Linked DNA regions of Homo sapiens. The protein of the gene in region 3 interacts with the protein of the main gene of each other region in a pairwise test. Each region holds a gene or a part of one and is shown on either strand. Other genes may lie near its edges.

Region 1 (3,310 bases), on a different chromosome or scaffold from region 3:
AAAAGGATTCCTTTTCATTACAGGTCACTTTTCACCCCTTCCCTTTCCTTTCAGGAGACATTTCTGCAGGTGTAGATGTCACGTCAATAAAGACAGTCATGACTGAGGGTGTGTGGGTGCCTCATTCTTAATAAGATTATGTGATTCAGGGTGCTTCCTTTTGTTTCAAGCTGAAGAACTCTCAGCCTCTGTTTGGGTTCCAGTGGTCTGGACGGTACCAATTGGGCATGCATAATGTTTCACCCACATGACAGCACCCAGCTCATACATACTAAGCACCTTCTCTGTATCTATTTTTCAATTTAAATAGAGACCTCAGGTTGTAAGACTAAAATGAGAAAATATCACACGTATGAAAATTCTTAATATCTGTTGAATCTCGAAGCATGTAAATCCTAGCGTGATCTGATAGCCCTGCACATATTTTATGAAAACTGCGTACAAAACTTTGTCAGGATGATTGCACTTTAATGCTTTAAAGTTTAATCTCAACGAATCTCAACAATCAAATGACTCCACTTGATTTATATATGTACATTTTATTAGAATTCTTCAGAACTGTCAACAATTGGACAACATACAGGAATAAAACACGTGGAACACCAACATCCTTTAAACTTACGCCGCTTATGTATTTACACATAAAGTTACTGTATATATAAAAAATATTTTCAAGGACTCATGGGCTTGGGAATATTCAAAAGACATTATTGCTACATTTCAATATTTACAAAAAAAGCCACAAAATAATTTCAAACATTAAGCCACTGCAAAGAAACATCTGATGTAAGAAAAAATTATAAAAATATAAACTTTCAAGAATATCCAAGACAAAACTCTCAATGAAGTGCCCCTGAAGTACCTAGACATCTATAACTAACAACCACTTTTCTTACTATCATTGAAGTCAATAGAAACACAAAGGAATTTTTCAGACAAAGTATGGCAAACAACAATCTCTTGGGTGACAACACAACCCCAAAATCTGTTAACTTTGGAAAGGTGCGAGAGCATAGAACTCCAGTGCAAATGGTTACTTCCAGATAACGGCCACAGTTCTCTAAATGTAGTCTAAGAAATGTAGAAGGGGGAAACCATAAAGGCAACATACCTGAATCTTTCAAGACAACACACAAACTCTGCCATGTACACATTTGCCTTTTATATTGGGCAGTGAGGAAGGGGAGTTTTTTGTTTTGTTTTGTTTTGTTTTTAAAGAGGTAAACTACAAGAATAATATCCAGGCTACAGTCTAAAGGGTAAAATTTAAATGTTTCAGTGAGACAGTAGCATTATGGAAGGTCTAAGGAACAGGTACAGTAAGATGAGTCTAAATAACAGAGTGCCTTAAGTGCAGGTGAACTGCAAATACATAGGGACTGATGCCTTCCACTTCCTCTGCACCACTATGGAAGCTTCTGGTAAGCTACTCTAGACAGCTATGTGAAAAGAAACAAGAGCAGTACTAATAATGAAAGCCAAGTTACTTTTCAGGTACTAAAGGACCCTCTTGGACTCAGGGCAAAAATACCCCTCCAAATATTTGTCTACACACATACAAACGTACATACACATATATAGATACTGGCCCGGTGTCCAGGACATGCCTGCGAAGGAGGCTAAACCTATACTTTATTTCCTGCTACATAAGAATCCAAACTAAGATGGCAGTGTTTTCCCACTCCTGTGGGAGCCATGCAGTGAATCAGTAACTTTGTCAAACAGCATCAAATCCATTGAGTACAATGCCATTCTGAAGCTGATAGGCTTGTTCCACAGAATCTACAGAATAAGTTCATCAGCTAAAAGAGGAGATTTTGTTCAAACTGTGCTTTGTGGTTATATTGTTTCCTTAAAAAATGGTATTAACTGTTTCCTTCAAACTTATATGGCTCTTAATCTACTTCTATACACAGTGGACATAATGCCAGGGTTGTATACAGAAACGAAACCTTATGGTGTTTTCCCCTCAAATGTATGAACACGGACAATTTATAGATGCGTATATACAAGTGCTGGCTAGGGAGGCCTTCTCTCCAATTCAATGCTCTAATAGCAAACTCTATTTAAAAACCAGGTCGGTAGTATAAAAGCTCATGCAGTGGTCCACAGAAGAGCATCTTTTGTTCACACTTGGGGATCATTTTTTTCATGGCCTATGTCTCATTCCCAGCATGAAATACTAGATTTCTTAAGCCCAGGTGTTCATACTCTGTCCTTTGTTCTAATGATGTTCTGTTTTCCACATAAAGGACTTAGGTTTTCAGCTTCTAATCTTGTATCATCATACTACTATGGATGGTTCTGAAGGCCAACTGTGATTACTACCATTTATTCAGGTAAACTATCAACCATATTTTTGGGCAGAATTGGAGAAGCCTTGGAAAGGACTCTGGCCCCCAGTCCATACCTCCCTCTCTTTTTCCAAATCAGAATGTTTTCTGTTCATGGTAGAAGCTACGTTGCTATTGGGAATATATACAGTTGGAACCTTTGCAATAGGATGGTGGCTGATGACAAAAATCATCGGCCACTAAAGTGTGCTCAGAAAGACAGGATTGCAGTGGGGTGCCCACTATCCTGGAGTTGGATGCAAGTTGAAAGAAAAGAAAATAACCATCATGGAAGCCAAAAGAAGAGATCATTCCTGGAGGGGTGACCCAAACACTGATTCTGCTCAGACATCGTCGTGCACAAGCAGAGGCTGGGAGGAGGAAGCGGTGCTGCCGACAGAATTGATCCGCACAGAATGGTCTACCACGGGCTTCTGTCGGTTGGGGCTGCAGTTTGCTAAGTTGGAGTAAATCTGGAGAAAACAAGCCCATAGTCAATACAGCAGTCCCTACAACGAACATAGCAACAAAAGGCATACTTACAGTGTCAAGATCACAACTAACTGATGGAAACTCTTAAGAGAGAAGTGGTTTCCAAGAACTTTGTGGCCAAAACCCAAGTCATACTGACAAAACAAATATAAGCTTTGTTTTCCCCCTTCATTTTTCCAAGGAAATAACTTTATACAAGAAGTGGGGACAAAACATGCACAAGCTTAGCTCTTCTAAAAGGGCACACCAGGCACCAAGCACTATCTTACCTATTTAAAAGGCTTGTAAATCTCTCCAGCAACTACAACCCAATAACCAATGTAATTTGCTGGGAAACCCACGGCCCTTCCAGGGGTCTCTTGTCAAGAATCAAAGCAACTGGGTGGAAAATGCTGTTCAATTTGAAACATGTTTTGACACCCAGAAGAACAAGCTTTAACCCAAAAATTATCAGTGGTGTGCTATTAGGAAAGAAAAGATAGCTC
Region 2 (7,051 bases), on a different chromosome or scaffold from region 3:
AAGGAAATAAACGCAGGAACAGAAAACCAAATATCACATGTTCTCACTTACAAGTGAGAGCTAAACATGGACATAAAGATGGCAACAACAGACACTGGGTACTACCAGAGAGGGGAAGGAGGCAGGTGGAAAGGGTTGAAAAACTAACGATTGGGTGCTATGTTCAGTTCCTGAGTGACAGGATCATTCATACCCTAAATCTCAGCATCGCACAATATACACAGGTAACAAACCTGCACATGCACCCCCCTAAAACTAAAATAAAAATTGAAATACAAAAGAATAAAAATTTTAAAAAGTGCATGTTAATTTTTAATCACATTCAGAAACTTTAAAAGATCTCTTGAAAAAATGTTTAGAGCAAATCCATCACTGTGCCAAAAGAGTCACCCAGGGAAACTCTCAGGATTAGTCTTCTGTATGCTCCCCACACAATATTAAGGATCTAAGCTTGAAGGTACTTTAACCAAAGTGGTGTATAAAAACACCATACAAAACCTTGCACTGGCTTAACAAAAAAAAGTCAGTATAGTAACTAATGTTCAGACTGTTGCAGAAAGGCGTGAATGGACAAGGCCAAACATAACAACATAAAGACAGCATGTGGGGCTCACACAGCTGCTGCATCATGCTAGACAGAGACTAGACAGAGATGGGGGCCTTAGATAAGTTTAGCGATTTAATATACTAGATTTATGTCATGACATAAAGAGAAGCTATAACAGATAAATTTCCCAAACTTTACAAAACTCCCTTTCCATCAGAAATATAAAATTTTCAATTGAAGAGGTCAAAATATAATTTGTCCTGTATTTCCAGTGACTCATCTGCTTTCCCAATATTTAATACAGTATGCTTAAAATACGTTTCTCTTAATACACACAAAACTTGGCTCAAAACAAACACTACAGTGACAGAAATAGTATGATGAAAATATCACTATCATGAATTGAGTGACAGGCAAAGGGTCTAAGATAATTATGTTTAAGTGTTCAGAACATCTATGTATTTCTGCAGTTTCAATTACTCATAAGTATTTGAAAAGCTCATCTGTATGCAAACTACAGCAGCTGACATCTATAATTGGGGCTATAAACAAGACTAGAATGTTACTGGTTTCTTATAGATCCTTCCAAAGACAATCTCAAAAACCAGACATATAGGGCAATGAACTAGTTATATGGAGCTCTGAAACTAATCAAGCCATATTTTATAGAATTAGATTTGCTTATAATGAGTTTTATATAAGAGATACTGAATAATAGATTAAGTCATTTATCTGATGTCATGAAATTTGAAATTAAAATAGATTCATCTGATGCTATGAATACTGAGAAAAATTATAGGACCAAACGAGACATTATTTTTGTTTAAGTGTTTGTGGATAAACTTTGCTTTGAGATCTGAATTTGGATTTTAAAATGTGTTTTTCTTGAAGTTATAACTTTGTAAAGTGAGTTTATGAAGTCATAACTTTGTAAAGTGAGTTTACAAAGTCTGCCTTGTAATGTTAAATACATTCTCAAGCCTCCTCTCCTGTATCATAACTATTTAAAAAGTAGAATAGTACAGGCCGGGCACAGTGGCTCACGCCTGTAATCCCAGCACTTTGGAAGGCCGAGGCAGGTAGATCCCGAGGTCAGGAGGTCGAGACCATCCTGGCTAACACGGTGAAACCCCGTCTCTACTAAAAATACAAAAAATTAGCTGGGCGTGGTGGCAGGTGCCTGTAGTCCCAGCTACTCGGGAAGCTGAGGCAGGAGAATGGCGTGAACCCCAGAGGCGGAGCTTGCAGTGAGCCGAGATCGCGCCACTGCACTCCAGCCTGGGCAACAGAGCGAGACTCTGTCTCAAAAAAAAAAAAAAAAAAAAGTAAAATAGTACTAAAGAAAAGTAAATTTTTTTTGAATACTATGACTTCAGGAACCTCTTTACTGTTTTGCTAAGTCTATTCTTGATTCTGGCAAAAACTATATGGGTATTTCAATCTGGGTGCTCTTTTTAAGTTCATTTTGTATCTAAGCAAATATGCCAAATAAATAATGTGGCCAACGAACTCACAATTGTCTCTGAACAGTTCAGTTAAATTTTAAAAGAATGAACACAATCTCCAGAAATAAGAACCTACTTTATTCTGTTCTATTAAGTTCTTTTACGTTAAAGAACTAGTGTGATTAGTCTCTAGTGTACTAGAATAATAGTACTTTCACTAAATACATAGGGATGTATAATTATAAAATATGTAGTATACATGATACATAGTATATATTCTGATATATACATAAAATATATATCATAATAATGTGGGATACATGAGTGATATCAGACCTAGAGGATACTAAAAGCTAATCATTAATTGATCTTAGGTCTTTTCTAACTTATAAACAGTGGTGTTTCCTGATTTCATATTATGCTTACCACATGGAATCACAACTGTTGAAATATACTGGAGTTTTCAAACTGTGCTCTACAGAGCTCAAGGGGAGAAAAGAGCAGCAGAGGAGCAAGGGAGGTAGGACTTAAAAGCTTTGTAACCTCACCCAAATCTTACTCCCTCCACATTTATGCGAGACCTCAAAATATAAAACTGTTAGGTTTGGAGTTAAAAAGTAGAGATCTGCCACTAACATGCACTCGTTACTGGAAAATAAGGAAAGCACCAGTTTAACATTAAAAAAGATATTTCAATATTTCAAAGAGTTCATGACACTTATATCTCAATCCTTCAGTGATCTGTATGAACCAATTATAAAGCTATACATGTCCAAACATATTTTTGCATATTATATGCAAAGAAAATGACTAGTAGTTGTCTAAAATAGATTTAGAGACAAAGAAAAAGGAAACAAAAGGAAGCATTATCCGATAGAAAGCCTCTGATGCTCACATCCTTTCTGAGATCCACACCGCAATCACAGCCCTGCTGCCAGGGCAGACTGGGTCGTCGTGGGTGTGACACACATAGACCAATCACATCATCTCTAAGCAATCTAAAGTGAGTAAATAATAAGTAAGGCAATGAGAAGCTGATGCAGAAGCTGCAAGGGCACATAAAAAGCAGCTAGGAGGCAGAACTGAGGCCATAGAAGGGGAGCATTGGAGGCCAAAGCTCTTGGAAAGCAGAATCCATTTAAGTAGAGGATACAGAGTAAGAAAACAAAAAAGAATCAGAAAAGAAAACAGAAAAGAAGGGAAGAATGTGAAAGAGAACAAACCAGATGCAAAGATTTCCCATAAAACAGAAATGCACAGAGAGAGCAGGACACAGCAACAGTCCCCTAGAATTGCTTCAGTTCCTGATAACCTCCTTGTTGAAGGAGGTTAACCTCCTGTTGAAACGAGGAGGTTATCCTTACTTACAAACAAAACCAAATCTTTTTTCTTAAGATAGTCTGAGCCTCAGTCTCTTTTCCTCACAACTAGGACTTAATTAGAACTAATATTAATGATCTAAGCCCAGGTTAAGGAGAAATTGATGCCAACATTATGTGGTCTTAAAAAGCTACATATAGCACATGAGACTTTTCAAATGTGCTGAAACACCCTAATGTAAGCCAGATATTGTATCATTCATCACATTTACATTTATGCTAATTTACTTGGTTGTCAAGATTAAGCCACACTAACAGCATGGTGCAACAAATCAAATTGTCTGTGTTTTAACAACTTAAACCCCAATTTAAAAAACCTGGGTAGGCATTACCCAATTTGGCTGAACAGTTTCTTTTACAGACTTCTTAACAAACTATGTTACCTTAGAACTTAATGTTACTTATGAAGGCCAGCATGGAAAAAAAAATGACAGACTAGAAGCATGTATTACCCCAGCAAAGGCAAAGTAATTTTTAAGAAGTTGTTATATGAACAGAATGGAAAGATTATACAGTCTCACTGTTCTTAAATAATTATGTCAAATACATTAATAATCTTAAGTCTGATTTGATATTATATACTCTGGAGAAGAGGTTACTAAATAGCAGCTGAAGGCCATTATCTAGCTTGCAGAAGTGTTTGGGTTGGCCTGCAATGTTTTCTTAATAATTAAATTAGTTGATAGAACTTTAAAAATTGAGAGATAATACATATAAAATCTGAAATCTCTGGCTTTTCCTGATATACCAGAAGATTTGCCTGCATGGGTGCATCATTTCACAAGTCAACAAAGGATTGTAGCAGTGTAGGTTAGTTACTCCCATTAGATGGGGCTACGGCAGTCCAGTTTCTTCTAATTCTCCCCAGTTGTCCGCTCACCCCGTGAGTATTTCAGCTTGTAACCTCTGCTCTAGAGATAGGAGACTTATAAATATCACCTCACATCAACATGTGATATCATAATTGTTAATTTATAAATGGCAGTACTGCTTTGCTTAAATAACTTGATGGCTATGGAACTATGAAATATTTCAGAATTTCTAGTCCAAATTCTATTTTGGATTTAATGGCAGTTAAAGATAGATCTAACTTGGCACTCCCCAAGCCTTTTACTTTGCCATGCTCTCCTTACCTTTTCTGTCTGGCTTGAGGTTCCTATCCACGGGGGGTGGTTCACAGTCTGCAACAGGAACTGGCCTTCTGGGAGGGGTTTTTGGGCTGGACCTGAAGCCCATATGAGCAGGAGGAGGAACTTGCATTCCAAATGAGGAAAAATCAAATGTTCCTGGAGTCATTGGCACATAATTTGCTTCCTGAATTGGTTCTGTAAAACTGCTGGAATGTTGTCGTGGTGGTGAATTGGGATTCATTGGGACGTAATTTTCATCCAGTTCTTCACTTGAAACACTTCCCACTGTCAACACATTTTTGACTTTCTAAAACACATATATATTTCTTTTAATAAACAAAAACTCTTGTCACACATGAAAACACAATTGTAAGTCACACTCATTCATATGGATCTCAGCGTACTTTTATTTCATGATATCACTTAGTCTCATGGCACTAATTATGAAGATTTAGACAATGAAATACACTTGATGATGCCAAGGTCAATTATACTTACAAAGTGGTTATGGAAGCCTTCAAGTGAACTAGATCTATCACTTGGAAATGCTCGTGGAATATCATAGCAGTCTTGAGAACTAGCATCTAAAATAAAGAACAAACTATCAACATTTATTCCCATCTTTGCCAGCTCTCAGGGTCATTGGGATGACCTATTATCTTTCTCTCATTATACATATGCATACACACATGCACACACACAGAATTTTAAAAAGGATGCTCATAGAACTGTGTCTTGAATTGGCATATTAAACCACTAGAAAATGCAGACACTCACTCATATGCTAACCAATACCAATATCTAATTTTGAGTGTGAGTGAATGTCTAAGTCTGGGATAAGATAGGTTATCTAAAGATGAAGAGAAACACCTCTATTTTCTCATCGTTTGCACCACCTTGGGCATAACTTACATCTCACTAACTGATAACCAGGTTATACAGTCACTTCAAGAAAGGAGTTAGATACTGTTATTGAATGGTGAAATAAGTACTGATTTAAGTAATAATCACAGATACATTAAAATCTTGGAGATAGCTGAGGAAAACTCTACCACAAAATACAGAAATTTTAGCACATACTGTTTAGGATATGTGCATTAAAAACTTTAGCTTTCTATTTGTAGGACTTTGAGAATCTCAGAGAATCACCCAGACTCATTTTTTTCTTCTCCTCTCAAGGTCTGTAACTTTTGGATACAGACTCTAGGAGACAGTATAGGAAAGTATACTCACTAGCAATGAGTGAAGTGGGTAGTGATAAGGGGAAAGAAGATTCAGCTCTTTAAACACAAGTAAAAATCAAACAGCATAATGGCTTGACTGGAACAGAATATCACCTGTTAGACACAACATAAAAACTGCTTATATAGGAAGGAAGGAAATAGAGCCCAACAGATGTGACTTAGAAGCGGCCATAATGGCACACAAATACAGGAAAGGGTATGACTCGGAGAGGCTTTGTGGCTGGTCCATTTCCTGCCCTTCTGTCCCAACAGAGGGCCTATCCACCCAGGATTATAGAAAGTGGGAGAGAGAAGGGCACACTTCCTGAGGCAGGAAGGCATTACTAAGGCCATACTTCTTCAGGGGTGAGAAACTCCAACTCTTTTTCCCTTCCAGCAGAGCATGAATGCAATATACCCTTCCAGGTAGCTGTAGAGCTGGAAAAAAATGGACTGTATTTTGTAGCATAGTATATTTAACTACGCTTAAAAGAACAAATATTCAGAAAAATCGATTTTCTATCATTAACCTCTAATAGAGAAGAAGTCAACTAGAGCTGACCTTTTCGCAATTTGTTTAAATCCACAGTGGAAATGGTATTACTACGTGAAGGCGACATCCCTGCTGTAGGGATACAGTAACTACTGTCAGTGTCTGAGGCGGTGCGTGGGATACTACACGTTTCCACAGGAGATCGGTCATGAGCTGGATGTGGTTTCGGTGGCCGAGGTGGAGGAATATCTGGAATAGTGTCTAGCTTTGATGTCTGTCCCAAGGTTCCTTCTGGAAATGTTCGTGGAATCTGATAAGTATTACCAGGTGTTGGAGGAATGTCATAACTAATAGATACATGCCTCATTTGAGTCTCTACACTCGATGTCCCAGATGGGGTATTAAAAACATAGAGTTCTCCATCTGCTTCAGTACTTGATGGAGACACCTTTGGTAAAACATCATGGGAATAACTCCTGGGCAGGTTATAAAGGCTGGAGTCAACTGAAGCAGATGGGGCACGTGAAGGTGGAGAGTCGTATATCATTTGCTGCTGAAAAAAGCCATTCATTCCATGTTTGCTCTGGGAGGAAGCAGGATTTTTATGAGAAGGGACGTTATCATTGCAGTCTGTTTCAGAAGAGGTGGATTTTGCAGAATCAGCATGCGTTCTAAATAAAAATTGTTAATGACAGAATAAACAAGGTGGAGACTAAGAATACATTTTTTATAAACATGTTTATCGCTAAGCAATCAAAAGATAGGGCTTTTCTCATTAGATTTTTTGTGTGATCCATAGGATTTAAAGCACAAATGTTCTTTAGCCTTTATGAT
Region 3 (7,051 bases):
TATGTCAGTTGCCATTTATCATCATGCTTTCACTGCCTATTTTCTTCTAATAGATACATTCCCTATGGGTTTGCCTCTGTGGGAACCGGGAAGGAGCAGTGAGGACCCCTGGCAGGATAACTGGAGAATATTTCTGTATTTCCAGCTCCAGCACTACCCCTGGACGCTGGTTTGGGGCAAGCCCAGGGCAGGGAAGCCCCTCAGCTTTTCACCTGTTTCCAAGGTGGTTGTTTTTGTTTTTGTTTTGAAACAGAGTCTCACTTTGTCACCCAGGCTGGAGTGCGGTGGCATGATCTCAGCTCACTGCAACCTCTGCCTCCTGGGTTCAAGCAATTCTCCTGCCTCAGCCTCCTGAGTATCTAGGGTTACAGGCGCGTGCCACCATGCCCAGATAATTTTTATATATATTTTTTTTAGTAGAGACGGGGTTTCACCATGTTGGTCAGGCTGGTCTCGAACACCTGACCTTGTGATCCACCCGCCTCGGCCTCCCAAAGTGCTGGTATTACAGGTGTGAGCCACTGCATCCGGCCTTCCAAGGTGTCTTTACCTTCCTTGGAGCAAAGGTCTGTTCACCTTGCTCTGGGGATATGGGAAGCTTCTACAAATCTAGCCACTGTGCCGCATGACCCCCCTACTCCTGTCTTTATGCTCCATTTCCTTTCCCCAGAGTTTCTTAGCAAGTTCCTTTCAAAAATTCCATCCCTGTCTTGGCTGAATTCAGGGGTAAAGGGCTTTGTCCAGGAGATGGTGGGAGGAGTCAGTGTATACTGACAACCTACTATGAGTCAGGCTCTTTCACAAATGGTCTCTCATTTTTTCTTTTTTCTTTTTCTTTTTCTTTTTTTTTTTTTTTGAGACAAATTCTCTCTCTGTTGCTCAGGCTGGAGTGCAATAGAACAATCATGGCTCACTGCACCCTCAACCTCCTGGGCTCAAATGATCCTCCCACCTCAGCCTCCCAAATAGCTGAAACTACGGGTGTGTGCCACCATGCCCAGCTAATTTTTAAATGTTTTTTTTGTTTGTTTGTTTTTTTTTTTTTGTAGAGATGGAGTCTCTCTTTTTCTTGTTTTGAGACAGGGTCTTGGTCTATTGCCCTAGGCTGGAGTGTTATGGCATGGTCTTGGCTCACTGCAACCTCTGCCTCCCTGGCTCAGGTGATCCTCCCACCTCAGCCTTCTGAGTAGCTGGGACTAGAGGCACATGCCACCAAACCTGGCTAACTTTTGTTTTTGTAGAGATGGGGTTTCGACCAGTTTCCCAGGCTGGTCTCGAACTCCTGGGCTCAAGCAGTCCTCCCACCTTGGTCTCCCAAAGTTCTGAGATTATAGGCATAAGCCACTGTACCTGGCCTAGTCTCTTATTTTTAGTATCAGGAAACTGAGGCTTAGAGAAGTGAAGTGACTAGCTTCACTAGTTACAGTAATGATCTGAACAAAGCCAAACAGAAAGTTAGCAACAGTGGCAGATCTGCTGATAAAAGGTAGGCCTCTTGTTCCTGAGCTAGATCTTCTTCTACCATACCAGGCTGCCTGGGCCAGAACTAAAGAAAAGAGCTGGGGCCGGGTGTGGTGGCTCACGCCTGTAATCCCAACACTGGGAGGCCGAGGCAGGCCAATCACGAGGTCAGGAGATTGAGGCCATCCTGGCTAACATGGTGAAACCCTGTCTCTACTAAAAATACAAAAAATTAGCTGCGCATGGTGGCACGTACCTGTAATCCTAGCTATTTGGGAGGCTGAGGCAGGAGAATCACTTGAACCCAGGAGGCAGAGGTTGCAGTGATCCAAGATGGCGCCACTGCACCCCAGCCTGGGAGACAGAGCAAGACTCCGTCTCAAAAAAAAAAAAAAAAAAAAAAAAAAAAAAGAAAAAGAAAAAAAGAGAAAAAGAAAAGAGCTGGGGTTATTAAAGAGAGATACGGAGATGGAAGCCAGCCCTGGGAGATGTGGCATCTGCCTGGGGACGTTGGACTCATACCCCTGAGAAGATAGAGGAGATGCAGCTACAAAGTTTCAGATTCTGAGACTGGAAAGAATTGAATGGGAAGACATGGACTTGCCCTTCCCATCACCCTTTCAGTTCCTGCCCTTGGCTCTAACCTGGGTAAGGGATGCGGCCGTGGGTGACAATTTCCGTCAGCAGGATCCCAAAAGACCACACATCTGACTTGATGGTGAATGTCCCGTAGTTAATGGCTTCTGGCGCTGTCCACTTAATGGGAAACTTGGCCCCTAAGGAGGAGGCAGAGTGAGGTCACCTGGGTCTGCTTGGCCAGACCCTGCAGGGCCCAGACCACCCTTAAATCTCACACGTACCCTCCCTGGCTGTGTACTCGTTGTCCTCAATGAGGCGTGCTAGGCCAAAGTCTGCAATCTTGCAGCTCAGGGTGTCAGACACCAGAATGTTGGCAGCCCGAAGGTCACGATGAATATAATTCCGCTCTTCAATGAATGCCATGCCTTCTGCAATCTGCAGGCCAAACACAGATCAGCGGTCCTGAGCCAGATGTCTTCACGTCACTGGTCTGTTCCCTTGCCCAGCCCCCCTCCCCAGTCTCCTTACTTGGGCTGCCATGTCCAGGAGTTTGTTGATGGTCAACTTGATGCCTGAAGGGGTCTTGAGAAAATCCACTAGACTCCCTGTGGGCAGAAGCAAGAGTTGCTGGCCCAAGTTGCCCCAGGGGGAGGCCCCCAGACCTTTCTCCTCCAACTGGGAGTCTAGAAGTGTGTCTGACATGTGAAAAGGAAGATTGAAGAGTGAGAATGGAGGAGTGTGTGTTCAGGGTAAGGATGCCCAGGATATGTAAAGGTTTTTTTGCAGAGGGGCTAGGGTAGAGCATGCTGGGAGGGATCTGTAGGTTTTTCATCACCAATAAGGTAGAACCTAGAATCCTCAACTAGTATCCTAAGCTTGGCATGGTCCACACTGGTAGCTTCTTCTCTTTCCCCCACTCTGCCTTTGACTTCAAACAGTTTAGCAATTTTGAGATCCTGCACTCAGACCACTAGGCTCTCACCCCAAAGCCTCTTTGTTTCATCTCTGCCTGCTAAAAAAAATTCTACTTTTCTTTCGTGGCCCTGCTAGACTGCCCCACTAGGAAGCCTCTCTAGATCCTACCAGGCATAATAAACTGGATCATCATCTACACTCCCATGGGCATGCTGGAACTTTCCCATGGCACAAACTCTGGTTTCCCCAGTAGCTGTAACTAAAATCAGGTTTCCCTGACAACAGGAACCTTGTTTCATCCATCCATGTTCCTGGTGCCCAGCCGAGAGTAAGAAACAATAACTATGTGCTGAATATATTGGATGGAATAAGAAAGAGGGGGTCTGGGGGTCTGAGGGACCACCTCTCTAATAGTGGAGGGCAGCTGGACATGGATGGGAGTTGCTAGGATGCAGTGAGTGACCAATGGCCCTTCCCAAGAGATTAAAACCCTGTAAAAGGATGACAGCAACCTGAGTGTCCCCACTTTGAGTGCTGAACTAGTTACCAAAGACAAAGACCTCACCTACACACAGCAAATACATAGACATAGATATACTGCCATTCTTCCATTGTATCCATGGCAGATGTTACTAATCATTCCTGGCACTCACTTCCAATGAACCTCAGAATCCTTCTCCAGCACTACAAGCAACTACCAATCAAAGTCGATACACATGATAGGCTGGGCATGGTGGCTCACATCTGTAATCCCAGCACTTTGGGAGGCCAAGGCGGGAGGATCACCTGAGGACAGGAGATCGAGACCAGCCTAGCCAACAAGGCGAAAACCTGTCTCTACTAAAAATACAAAAATTAGCCAGGCATGGTGGCACATGCTTGTAGTCCCAGCTACTTGGGAGACTGAGGCATGAGAATCATTTGAACCCAGGAGGGGGAGGCTGAAGTGAGCCGAGATCATGCCACTGCACTCCAGCCTGGAGGACAGAGTGAGACTCAAAAAAAAAAAAGATACACATGACATAATCTATTTGCCATTTCCCATTAGCCAATGAACAGCTTGTTTCTCTTCCTGAAAAAAGGATAGATCTTACACTCCCAAAGAATCAGAGCCAGATAACAGCAACAAACTTATTGATCAGTTACTATATGGTAGCCATAGTTTTGTGGGTTTTTTGTTTTGAGACAAGGTCTCGCTCTGTTACCCAGGTTGGAGTGCAGTGGTGCAATCACAGCTCAGTGCAGCCTCAACCTCCTGGGCTCAAGTGATCCTCCCACCTCAGCCTCCCAAGTAGCTGGGACTACAGGCATACACCACTATGCCCAGCTAATTTTTAAACATTTTTTTGTAGGAATGAAGTCTCGCTATGTTGCACAGACTGGTCTTGAACTTCTGGGCTCAAGTGATCCACCCACCTTGGCCTCCCAAAGTGCTGGAGTTATAGGCTTGAGCCACAGCACCTGGAAGTAGGCATAGTTCTAACTGCTCTGTATGCATTAATTATTTCATCCTCACAAGACCCTGTGAGGAAGTTACTAACGCGTTATTATAGTAGGAAACCATGGCAGAAAGAGGTGATATAATTATCACAAAGCCATAAAATCATGAAGCCAGGCTTCTGACCCAGGCAGTCAGACTCTAGAGGCCTTGATGAATACTCTGTATTATTTCTGGTGAGCCCATTTAGATTTCTGCTGTTATACTTGGGGAAACTGAGCACCAGAGACAGTGCAGGCACTTGGCCTGTCACACGGCAAATCGGTGTGAACAAAGCTGAAGCTAGAAACTCATATTCCTCTTCCTGGGGCTCTCACTCTGTCCAGTAACAGACCAAGAGGGGTGCAGGGGTGGGGGTCTCACTCAGAACTGAAAAAGAGGGCTTTGGGGGCAGATCTGCCCTCCTAGGGCTCAGGGGCAGAAGGGAGAGAAACAGGGCTAGGGACCCACTTGCTTTCTGAGATCAAGCATCCTGAGATCAAGGTAGGGCTTTGAAGAAGGCAAACAGAATGGCAGGTCAGGGAAGGTTGGGGTGAATGCTCTTCCAGAACATTCTTGCCACCTTAGGCTTGCCCCCAGACAGGATCAGATCAGAGGATACACCTTTTTCTCATGCCTGGAGGTGAGTCTTTTTTTTTTTTTTTTTTTTGATAGAGTCTTGCTCTGTCACCCAGGCTGGAGTTCAGTGGCATGATCTCAGCTCACTGCAACTGTAGCCTCCACCTCCCGGATTAAAGGGATTCTCCTGCCTCAGTCTTCTGAGTAGCTGGGATTACAGGCATGTGCCACCACACCTGGCTACTTTTTGTATTTTTAGTAGAGACAGAGTTTCACCATATTGGTCAGGCTGGTCTCGAACTCCTGACCTCGTGATCTGCCCGCCTCGGCTCCCAAAGTGCTGGGATTACAGGCCTGAGCCACCGCGCCCGGCTGGAGGTGAGTCTCCAGGGGGCAGGAAAGCTCAAGAAACCCTCCTTGCTTGAGCTTTGGGCCAGAAGAAAAGGTGTATTTCCACCCTCTGGCAGGGACAGCAGGGAGAGCAGTATCCCCTGGTAGCCGACTCGGGTAGCACCCACCATTCTCCATGTATTCAGTGATGATGTAGATGGGCTCCTGGGTGACCACAGCGTAGAGCCGAACCAGCCGCTGGTGTTGCAGCTGCTTCATGAGGTTGGCCTCGGCCAGGAAGGCGTCCGGGGACATGCTGCCCTGCTTCAGGCTCTTCACCGCCACCTTCGTGTGCCCGTTGTAGTACCCTGGGTCGGGGAAGGGAAGGAGTGGGAAAGTCGCCAGGCAGCTGTCCTGGGACTCTCATCACCTCAGCGGCCCCTCCCGTTCCCCTCTTCCCAGGCAGTCCTGGAGGCCACACTCACCCATCCACACCTCCCCGAACTGTCCAGCCCCCAGCCGCTCCACCAGCTTCAGCGTCTCCCTGGGAACCTCCCACTCGTCCTCCCACCACGGCTTCTGGGGCTTCTGGGTCTGGCAGGGGCGGCTCAACCGTGTGCACAGCCCATCTGAAGCATCTGCGAGGACGAGGGAGGGGTGAAGGCTGTCAATAGGGCAGGCCTCGTATTGACACCACCTCCCCCACTTCTCCAAGCCCCCATCTAGGTGAAGTGGACTAGCAAGGGGGTGTGGGGCTGTCACCCAAACACTTGGGGCCGTAGGGTCAGGTTCCACACCTCACCCACTGCGGGGAATGGAGTAGGGCATTGAAAGATGGATGGGGGACACCTGAGGGGGACTGAGGGGAGATAGGCTGATAGGGCACGGGGGAGGGGTCCCGTCGGGCTCACTGGTGTAATGGCGGACCAGTTCATGCAGGCCGGGAAAAGTGATTCGAGGGGAGATGTAGAAGCCACCGTTGTCCAGATTACGGATCTTGTAATGTTTCACCACCTCTCCCTGGTTCTGGTCGAAGTCCCGGACCGACAGTGAAAACGATCCTGAATGAATGAATGGATGGACAAAGCGACGAAAGAACGCAGTGAGTCTGGCCCGCCACCGCGCCCCCACCTTGGGCTCACCCAGCACCCCCAACTCCGGGTCATCCCGCGCCCCCACCTCGGGCTCATCCCGCGTCCCCCTCCGACTCACCCCGTGTCTCCACCTCGGGCTCACCCTGCGCCCCCCCTCGGGCACACCCCGGGGCACCCCCGCGCCCGGTCGAGACCGCCGCCCGCTCACCCGCGGTGCTCTCGCTCTCCCGGATGAGGAAGGAGCCGTGAGTGTTCCCGGGCGCCAGGAGCTGCCGCTCCGCGTCCTTGCGGCTCAGGTTCTTGAAGAACCAGCTGTGCAGGGCGGAAGCGAACGAAGGCCGTCGGCTGTCGTCGGATCTTCCTCCGTGGCCCTCAAGCCTTCACCGCCACCCCAGGCCTACTCCCTGCTCCAGGATCCCTAGATCTGCTCCTACCCACCCCCACGACGGGTCCCCACTTACGGTTCGGGCTCCAGGCTGTTCGCTTTGGCCACAAAATTGAAGGGGATGAAGCCTTCCTGGCCCGTGGTCAGGGACTGCGCCTTCCACCACTCGCCGCTCCTGCGCCACGGAGGTGGGTCAGTGTGGCTCGCTCAGCCGTCGACCTGAGACCCTCC
Region 4 (2,648 bases), on a different chromosome or scaffold from region 3:
CCTGCACTGTTCAATACAGTAGCCACTAGCCATTTGTGCATATTTTATACCTGAAATGTGGCTAATGACACTGAGAAACTGGATTTTTAATTTTACCTAATTTTAATTAATTTACACTTCTAAATAGGCACATGGCTACAGCAGGGTTTCTCAACCTGGGCACTACAGTATTAACAGTTTGGACTGGAAAGTTCTTTGCGGTGGGGCTGTCCTGTACATTGTAAGAGGCTTTGCAGCATTCCAGACCTCTACCCACTACATGCCTGTAGCACCCCTCCTCAGTTGTCACAAACAAAATGTCTCCAGTTATTGTTAAACATCACTGGGTAACAAAATTAACCCCAGTGGAGAACCACTGAACTAGTTGCTACTGTATTAAGCAGCAAGGTTCTAGAATATGCTTAATATGTATAGTGTTTTGGTTGAAAAAAAGAACTGGCGCCCACACTATGCTAGGACAGTAGTGGTTTTGTTGTAACAACAGGGAAGCTTAAAACAAATTAGACAAGCCAAGAAATATGTTTCTTTATTTTCATTCCCATATAGCAGAGATGGAACCAGGACAGTGATGCTGGAAAAGCCTGCCTCGATCAAGTCATCACATAAGTTAATGTCAGAAAACCTGTATTTGAATTTGACTCCTCTATCCTTACTCTGGAAAATTGGACATCTTGACCCAGTGGCTGTGAGGGCTAAATTAGATGATGCAGAAAGTGCTTGGCATGCAGTAGATATGCAAAACAATAACTTATGACACTCTCCATGCAGGGAAAAAAGTCTTCATGCCTTCTAACTAATAATACAAACGTATGCAGTGTCTTTCAACCCTGGCTTGAGTTTAACAAATACAAATTGAATAGAAAAAATTAGTCAAACTCCATAAACAAGTTTATAACAAATACAAATCTAATCGAAAAAACTAGTCAAACTCTATAAATCCAACTTGATTTTAAAATTCTAGTGGCTACAACACTCAATAATGTTTTCACATCGTTTGTGAATCCATTCCCTAGATGCATTTAAAGATGTAGGAGAAACTGTTTCAGATCCTCTGGGAGGACGAGTTTGGTTATCTTATGATGCTGCTGGATTCCAAAACACTTCCGAATTCTAAGGCGGCATAACTGCATCAAAGAAGGGGGCCCTGGAGAAAGATCATAAGACAAGTCATACAATGGTGCTATTGATCTAAGACTCCTTTTTTTTAAAAAAAAAAAGCATCCAAGATAGAACATTGTTATAAGGAAATAATATTGAACTATTTAAGACCATTTTCTGGGGTTTTTTTGTAGAAGGCATTTTTAGGCTATGTTCTCTCTTTTCCGGTAGCTAATTGAAATAAGCTTGTTAGGTTTTTAATTTAGAACAGAGTGAAAGAAATTTAAAGCTTAGCCTCACTAATGGAGGCTTAAATAAGCTAACTTGGGAATTACACAGCTATACAAAAATTCCAATAATACAAATAAAATTTATGTTTAATGGTGTTCTTTTATCTTTAAAAATAAGGGCATATTTCTAGATGCAAACATTTTTATTTTATAACTTGAGCAAATTAAGGTACTCAAAAATAATGAGCTCACAGTGAATCCTAAGAGTATGTGAAGTCGTGTTTGTTTTTACATCCTGTATTCAGAGCTATTCCAATGCTTCAATTCATAAGTGAAAAGTGAACTAGCTAGCACAAACCTTGCTTAGGGAACACCCAACAGTTTACATTTTAGGACAGTGGTTCACAACTGGGAGGAGGCTCAGGGAAGGAAAGGAGGAGGAGATCATTTTGCTCCTCAGGGGACATTTGGCAGTGTCTGGAGACATTTTTGGTTGCCAAAACTTGAGGAAGGGTGCTACTGGCATCTAATGGGAGAGGCCAAGGATGCTTCTAAAAATCCCAGAGTACACAGGACAGCCCCCAACTGATTCAAAATGTCAATAGCGTCAAGGTTGAGAAACTCTGTTATAGGGCAAAAGGATGGGGAATGATTTTCCCTGCCCCCCTACCCCTGTTCCTGCATCAAATTGTAATGGGAATCTTCTTTTGGTTATTTTTTAAAAAGCAAAACTATATACCCTCAAGAACTCCATAAAGCCGTAGCCCTCAATCCAGGTAGCACTTCAGACTCACCTGGGGTGGGGGTACATTCAACTACATGGACGCTGAGTCCCCCCAACCAGGGATGTTGCTTCAGTTATTGTTGGGTGAAGCCCAAGCATCTGGATTTTCTAAAGGCATGTGCCCGAGGTCATCTGAGTGTGCGGTCAGGGTTGTGAATACATCCAAAAGGATACTGTGGTCTCTATTTTCCTATAGCAATACCACCAACTACAGGATCAACCGAGTTAACTTATCTCTCAAGGTGATGCAGAACAAGGAGAGATGGAACTCGACACATATACAATCAAAAAAATACTTGCAGTATTTTAAACCAGGCCCTAACAGAAGGGCCCTGTTGGAGTAAGGCACCTATGAGATGATGCCCAGTATACTCAAAGCATTTAAAAATGAACGGCTTCCCAGTGTTCTCAAGGCACATATTAACGAGCAGCAAAAAGCACACTGTGGGGAAACTGAACCTAATCTAACCTCACTAAGGAATGTTGAAACATGTGACTGATCATCTGTGCTAGAAACGCTGTCAGAGGCAACCGTA

The links.
Region 1: the proteins of LCK (region 3) and KIT interact in binary tests that used the Homo sapiens proteins (3 or more experiments, as listed by UniProt).
Region 2: the proteins of LCK (region 3) and GAB1 interact in binary tests that used the Homo sapiens proteins (3 or more experiments, as listed by UniProt).
Region 4: the proteins of LCK (region 3) and ASB9 interact in binary tests that used the Homo sapiens proteins (3 or more experiments, as listed by UniProt).

Annotation. Positions count from the first base shown.
Region 1 is NC_000004.12:54,737,925-54,741,234, reverse strand, and holds the end of KIT (mast/stem cell growth factor receptor Kit isoform 1 precursor), read right to left. Parts: intron 2,807-3,310; coding exon 2,678-2,806; 3' UTR 520-2,677; downstream 1-519. UniProt on the Homo sapiens protein: Tyrosine-protein kinase that acts as a cell-surface receptor for the cytokine KITLG/SCF and plays an essential role in the regulation of cell survival and proliferation, hematopoiesis, stem cell maintenance, gametogenesis, mast cell development, migration and function, and in melanogenesis.
Region 2 is NC_000004.12:143,437,836-143,444,886, reverse strand, and holds part of GAB1 (GRB2-associated-binding protein 1), read right to left. Parts: intron 6,889-7,051; coding exon 6,287-6,888; intron 5,086-6,286; coding exon 5,000-5,085; intron 4,809-4,999; coding exon 4,505-4,808; intron 1-4,504. UniProt on the Homo sapiens protein: Adapter protein that plays a role in intracellular signaling cascades triggered by activated receptor-type kinases. Plays a role in FGFR1 signaling. Probably involved in signaling by the epidermal growth factor receptor (EGFR) and the insulin receptor (INSR).
Region 3 is NC_000001.11:32,275,265-32,282,315, reverse strand, and holds part of LCK (tyrosine-protein kinase Lck), read right to left. Parts: intron 6,996-7,051; coding exon 6,897-6,995; intron 6,748-6,896; coding exon 6,644-6,747; intron 6,403-6,643; coding exon 6,253-6,402; intron 5,980-6,252; coding exon 5,827-5,979; intron 5,710-5,826; coding exon 5,530-5,709; intron 2,646-5,529; coding exon 2,569-2,645; intron 2,476-2,568; coding exon 2,322-2,475; intron 2,238-2,321; coding exon 2,106-2,237; intron 1-2,105. UniProt on the Homo sapiens protein: Non-receptor tyrosine-protein kinase that plays an essential role in the selection and maturation of developing T-cells in the thymus and in the function of mature T-cells. Plays a key role in T-cell antigen receptor (TCR)-linked signal transduction pathways.
Region 4 is NC_000023.11:15,243,487-15,246,134, forward strand, and holds the end of ASB9 (ankyrin repeat and SOCS box protein 9), read right to left. Parts: intron 1,145-2,648; coding exon 1,020-1,144; 3' UTR 501-1,019; downstream 1-500. UniProt on the Homo sapiens protein: Substrate-recognition component of a cullin-5-RING E3 ubiquitin-protein ligase complex (ECS complex, also named CRL5 complex), which mediates the ubiquitination and subsequent proteasomal degradation of target proteins.